Regions from separate parts of the Homo sapiens genome. Here region 1 is linked to region 2. Evidence: fine-mapped expression QTL. Tissue or cell type: T cells. Region 2 holds a variant in brackets; the other region holds the start of a gene. All regions are shown on one strand. Distances are from middle to middle.

Region 1 (2,755 bases), 79 kb after region 2:
CTTGCTCTGACACCCCCTTGACTCCATTTAGAGCCTTACCCACCTATTTGATCATTCTTGTCTTGGCCACTTACGTTTTCTTCACATTTTTAGCTGGAGTGGGCTGAGCCCATAGCTCAGTCTCTGCTAATAAACGGGTTGGTGGTAGGTTAGGGCACATATGTGGGGACAGGACAGATCTGTGTCTAACCTAGCGTGTGTGATCTTGAGCAAGTCATTATTTCTGATTTTCACTTTCTTAATCCATAAGATGGGGGAAAATCACACCAAACCCATGGCAAGCAATGCATTAGTCTATGAATATCCAAGGCCTGGGAGGCAGCTCAACACACAGCAGGGACCAGATGTTACATGATCTTAACTGATGTTACAAGAGGCAGATGATTGCCTTTAATTGGGAGCTTTGAATCTGACATTGTGTGTGTACTGTCATGGATGTACATGCTGAAAATTTCCTCCTAATTTAACCTATAATCCGGGACATCAGCGTAAACCACCAACTAAAAAATTTACAATTGTATATTTAAAGAGGTCACAAGCAAGTTTAACTGAAGGTTTAAAATCAGCGGTCCCCTTTGCTTCCAGATAAAAGTCCAAACTAGCGTTTATTAAGCACCTGCTAAGTGCCACATCTTCAGATACAAGTAGGGTCAGAGAAGGGAAGCGACTTGCCCAGCGTCACTCAGGTAGAAACTGTCCCAGGCAAGCTGGGCACGGTGGCTCACGCCTGTAATCCCAGCACTCTGGGAGGCCGAGGTGGGCGGATCACGAGGTCAGGAGTTCGAGACCAGCCTGGCCAGCATGGTGAAACCCTGTCTCTACTAAAAATACAAAAAATTGGCCGGGCATACTGACGCGCACCTGTAGTCCCAGCTACTTGGGAGGCTGAGGCAGGAGAACTGCTTGAACCCAGTTCAAGCAGGCGGAAGTTGCAGCGAGCCGCGGTCATGCCACTGCACTCCAGCCTGGGTGCCAGAGAGAGACTCCGTCTCAAAAAAAAGAAAAAAAAGACTGTCCCAGGCAAGACACGAACCCGAGTCCACCAGACTCCAGAAGCGGCTCTTGCACCAGTGCGCCGTCCCAGGAGCCAAGGCCCGAAGTCAGAAGTGTAAACTCCCTCACAGCTACGCACCGCATTGTTAACGACCCAGATGAGGCCCCCTCTCTCCAACCCTGTTTCCCCATCTGCACTATGGAGAATGGTACCGGCCAGGTCTCCAGGCGGTTGCAGTCGAAACACCCCGTTCCGATCCCCACCTCCCATGCATACCTGCCTGAAAGGCTGCCCCACCCACCCACCAGCCGGAGAAGCTGCCCCGAACTGGACGCCCGGACGTGCGTGGCCCGTCGCGCGCTCCCTCGGACGCCCCGCTTCCGGGGTCGGCGCCTTTAAGAAAAGGCTCGGGCGGACGCCGTAGCCCAGCTTCAGTGTTCCTATCGCTGGTGGGTTCCTCCCAGGAGACCCCTGCGGATGGGTGGGGAGGCTGTGAATTCCACTCCCTCTACGCTCGCAGGCCTGCATACAGGAAAGTGCGGGGATGTGTGTGGGGTTGACCCTTGGGGGCCCGGACCTGCCGGTCTTCCTTAAAATCACAGCAGGGATTTGGCTCCAGCCCAAGGGGATTGCTCCGAGCTGGCGTTTAGGAACCAGGCCGGGAGGTGTGTGGGCGGAGCCCAGTAGCCTGCCGGAAAGGGGGCGTGTCACCAGAGGGCCCGGGTGTTCCGGCGGGGACCAGATGTCCGGGGGCGTGGTCTATCTTAGCCTGGGGGCCGGGTGGAGCTGTGCATGGGCGGGTTCCAGTGTTGAAGGCTGGTCCAACTTTGGGGTCCAGTCCCAGTGTCGTGACCCTACCGAGGTCAGTGGCCCGAGCCCACCAGGGGGTCGGCCGACTGGCGGCCAGACCCCAGGGGCCGCTCTTTTACCGATTCGAATCTTGACTCTATTGGCAACTCCTCCAGGTGTTGGGACCTCTGGACCTCAGTTGCGCCTTCTATAAAATACTCGGCAGCGTCTCGCAAAGTGTGTCTTGTCAACATCTCCCCACCAGAAAGTACTGTTAACTAGAACACTGTTAACTACTTTTTTTTTCTTTTTTTCTTTTTTTTTTTTTTTTTTTTTGAGACGGAGTTTTGCTCTTGTTGCGCAGGCTGAAGTACAATGGCGCGATCTCTGCTCACTGCAACCTCGGCCTCCGGGTTCAAGCCATTCTCCTGCCTCAGCCTCCCAAGTAGCTGGGATTACAGGCGTGAGCCAACACGACCGGCTAATTCTGTATTTTTAATAGAGACAGGGTTTCACCATGTTGGTCAGGCTGGTCTCGAACTCCTGACTTCAGGTGATCCATCGCCTCGGCCTCTCAAAGTGCTGGGATTACAGGAGTGAGCCACCACGCCCGGCCTTAAACTGCTATTAAACATGCTGTTTCCCTGCCTCCTTCCCAGACCGGGAGACACAGGGGCGTTTGCATTTGTACCAGGCTACCCGGTGACTCCCATAAACTACTTTGAAAACCGGCGGATCAGGAGTATCTGAGGGCTCCTTCCCTGAGCTGATCATGCCGTGGATGGAAGCTATTGTGAGGGTATATGTAGACTTGCCTGGGTCGGGGTGCCCAATAATAAATCCACCCCACTCTCAACTTCTGTAGACGAAGATTCCCCATCTTCGTCTAGAACCCTCACACCAGAGGACCCGTCTGAGTAGAAAGCCAAGGTTCAGGAAGGGAAAAGCAGTTTCTTCAAGGTCACAAAGTCA
Region 2 (2,755 bases):
ACTCTGGGCAGATGCTGGCACACACAGGACCGGGGGTAGGTGTCACACACACTGCACAGGGGCAGCACAGAGCTGGGGGCATGTGGCAGCTGCCATCCCTCAGCTCTTCTGACCTTTCTAGGCCTGGCGAGGACTCTGGCCTTGGAGTTAGCATGGCATGCTTATCAGGCCTGAGGCACCCCCTCCAGCTGGGGTGAAATCACTAGTGGGTCTGAGAAGCTGCCCTTGGGCCACCTTTGTCCACCCCTGTAGACAAAGAGTAAACCCAGGAGCCAAGAGAAAATGATGAAATGGTGTTTATTACTATCTGGATGTAAAACCCAGCAGTGTTGTCCTATCTGACATGGTCTAGGGTTTCCCAGCCAGTGAGAGAGGGGCCAGGAAGGAACTAGGCTGCGTGTCAGGCACTTGTCAGGCAGTATCAGGCACTCAGCACCCTAAGGCTACCATGGTGGGGTGGGGCTGGTAAGCTCTGATCAGCCAGGAAAGGCCCTCTCTGCCCTACTCAGGCCCAAGCCAGGACCAGACATTCTGAGCATGGCTCAGTCGCCTTCCCCAACCTCAGGTCTGACCCAGAGTAAAGAAAGAGACCTCAGGTTAATGGGAAGCCACTTAGCTCTGCTCCCAACCAGCCACTTTCACACAAGTATACCAAAAGATAGCCCCTGACTTCAACAGAGAGGGGCTTTCCTGCCTGAGATCTGGTGAGCAGATGGGTGCAGGGAAAGTATGCTGGCTTTTGTCACAGTGACATTTTCCAAAGTGGAAAAAAGTTAAAAATATCTCCCACCTTAAGTTCAGATGAAAAGTCACCCTTTGGGTCGGGAATAGTGAGGGGATGGCTAGGCCCAGGGACTCCCTCAGGGGAGAGCGCTGAGTGCCATCTGGGCTGGGGCTGCAGCAAGGCAGGGCTGGACTGCACAGGGAGGCAGGCAGACCGGATCCAGCAGCCTCAGGGCCCAAGGAGGAGTGAGAATGAGAGGGCCAGCCAGTGTGTGAGAAATCAGCCTCCCCAAGGCAGAGGTGAACCCTCAATCGCCCCTCCTCCCTTACTCGCTCACTCAGCATTCACAGGCAGCAACGTGGTCCCTGGTCACCATGGCAACCAATGGCCAATGCCTTTCTCAAGGCCAGGCCCATCTGCCCATCCCACAGGGAGATGTCTCTGTGGAAGATGGGAAGCCCAGCCACAACTCCCAGTGGCCTAGAAAGCTAAGGCCATGCACCAGGGCAGGACAGCACAGAGGCCTCACTCGGGCCAACCTAGCTAAAGGTGCTGCTATGGCAGCAGGCAGCTCCCAGCCCCTAGG[C/A]CCTGCCCATCTCTAGGGCTTGAGCCTGGGCCAGAGATCTGAAGGAGGTTTAGGGTCAGGGTCCTCCATCCTGAAGTTCCGAGTGACAAATTAAAACACAACAAAATAATCCTTTTGTTAAAAGAATGACCCTGGGCCCTCCTGGCCAGGGCCTGAGCACATTTCAGTCTGTTATGCAGGCTGAGAGGCCAGGCTCCTCCAAGGCCCCATGAGCTACTGGTTGTTGCAGCCCTGTGAGGCAGAGGAGCTGCCTGCCTGCTTTTTTCTCCTCTTGTTGAGGAGCCGGTTGTTAGAGGTCTTCAGGTCCTTGATCTTCACCTGGTCGTAGTCTACCCGCATAGTGGCCAAGGCACTGGTCATCTCCTCCTGGGGACAGACAGGATGGTGGGCACTAAGAGGTCAGGATGTACTGACCTTAGGAACCATCACCCCCCTGCCTGGGCAGCCCCTTAATGTCAGTGACAGCCTGTGCTGCCTCTGTGCCCACTGTGTGCCCAGCACTGGGCCAAGCCCTTTGCATCACATGATCCTCACTACCGTCCTCTGTGGTAGACACTGAGCTTATTCACTAAGGCACAAAAGGAGAGTTACTCCCTCGGACCACACCAAGGGTAAGTGGGATAGTGAACTAAACCAGTTCCACCACAGAACCACAAGACCTGCAGAGAATGCCATCTCGCTGGGCAACCAGCGCACTGGGGCCTGGAGATTGTGCCACTGGAGCTGCTACTCCATATGTTCAAACGTGGCCTCTGCTGGGTCTAAACCAGGCTGACCACCCTCCCAAATGTTGTTGGTTATAAGAGAGGTCATCATCCAAGCTTGGTACCAAAGCCCCGTTTCATTGAGGAAGTGAGCCAGGAGCACCACACTGAATGGCGTAGTGAGGCCCAATCCTTGGAGTGCCATGGTTGGACCACTGCGACAGTCACTGACACCCTGTGCTCCAGGTATAGAAAGGGGCCAAAGACCCCAGACCCTGGGTAGCCACCCCCCTGAAGTCCCTTTTGCCCAAATCCTGGCACCTGTATTGAGACTGAGGCAGAGCCCACCCACCTTGACTTCGTCCCAGTGGTCTTTGTCCTCCTGCAGCACTCGGGCCGTGTGGAGTGGGGTCTGTGGCACTACCATCGATTGCTGGAAGGAGCCCCACGCCCGTGGATTAGAAACTGGAGGCACCTGGGACAGCACTGGTTCCCCCTACTCCATCCTCTTCTCCCAGACTCAGATGGAAAAACCAAGGCTCAGGGTGGGGAAGGAGCCTCACTAGGGCAGTGACAAAGCCAGGTTGTAGGTGAGGCCCTAGTATCTACCTGTGTGCATGGGCCCATTCCAGCCCTGCACTGGGGCCTCAAAGCAGAGCCACCACCCTCCTGCCCGGCAGCCCCACTCCTGTTGGACACCCTGCCTGCCATGGGAGGAGGAGGGGCTCACGTTGATCCAGG

Evidence for each region. PIP is the estimated chance that this variant, and not a neighbour inherited with it, causes the effect.
Region 1: HEMK1 starts here. The variant in region 2 is fine-mapped to the expression of HEMK1 in T cells (TOPMed, PIP 0.94).

The regions. Positions count from the first base shown.
Region 1 is chr3:50,568,090-50,570,844 of GRCh38, reverse strand. It overlaps HEMK1 (HemK methyltransferase 1, mitochondrial release factors N(5)-glutamine), which reads right to left and starts at 1,323. Exons shown (of 11, transcript NM_016173.5): 1 at 1,271-1,323. It also overlaps a transcript of C3orf18 not described here. RefSeq lists an enhancer at 1,399-1,518.
Region 2 is chr3:50,646,815-50,649,569 of GRCh38, reverse strand. It overlaps MAPKAPK3 (MAPK activated protein kinase 3), which reads right to left. Exons shown (of 11, transcript NM_001243925.2): 9 at 2,745-2,755; 10 at 2,367-2,447; 11 at 279-1,676. The coding sequence ends at 1,524. Among named protein-coding and RNA genes, the nearest start is that of LINC02019, 21 kb to the left of the region's middle. RefSeq lists enhancers at 1-501, 1,993-2,492. The variant C/A (reference allele first, on the strand shown) is at 1,311.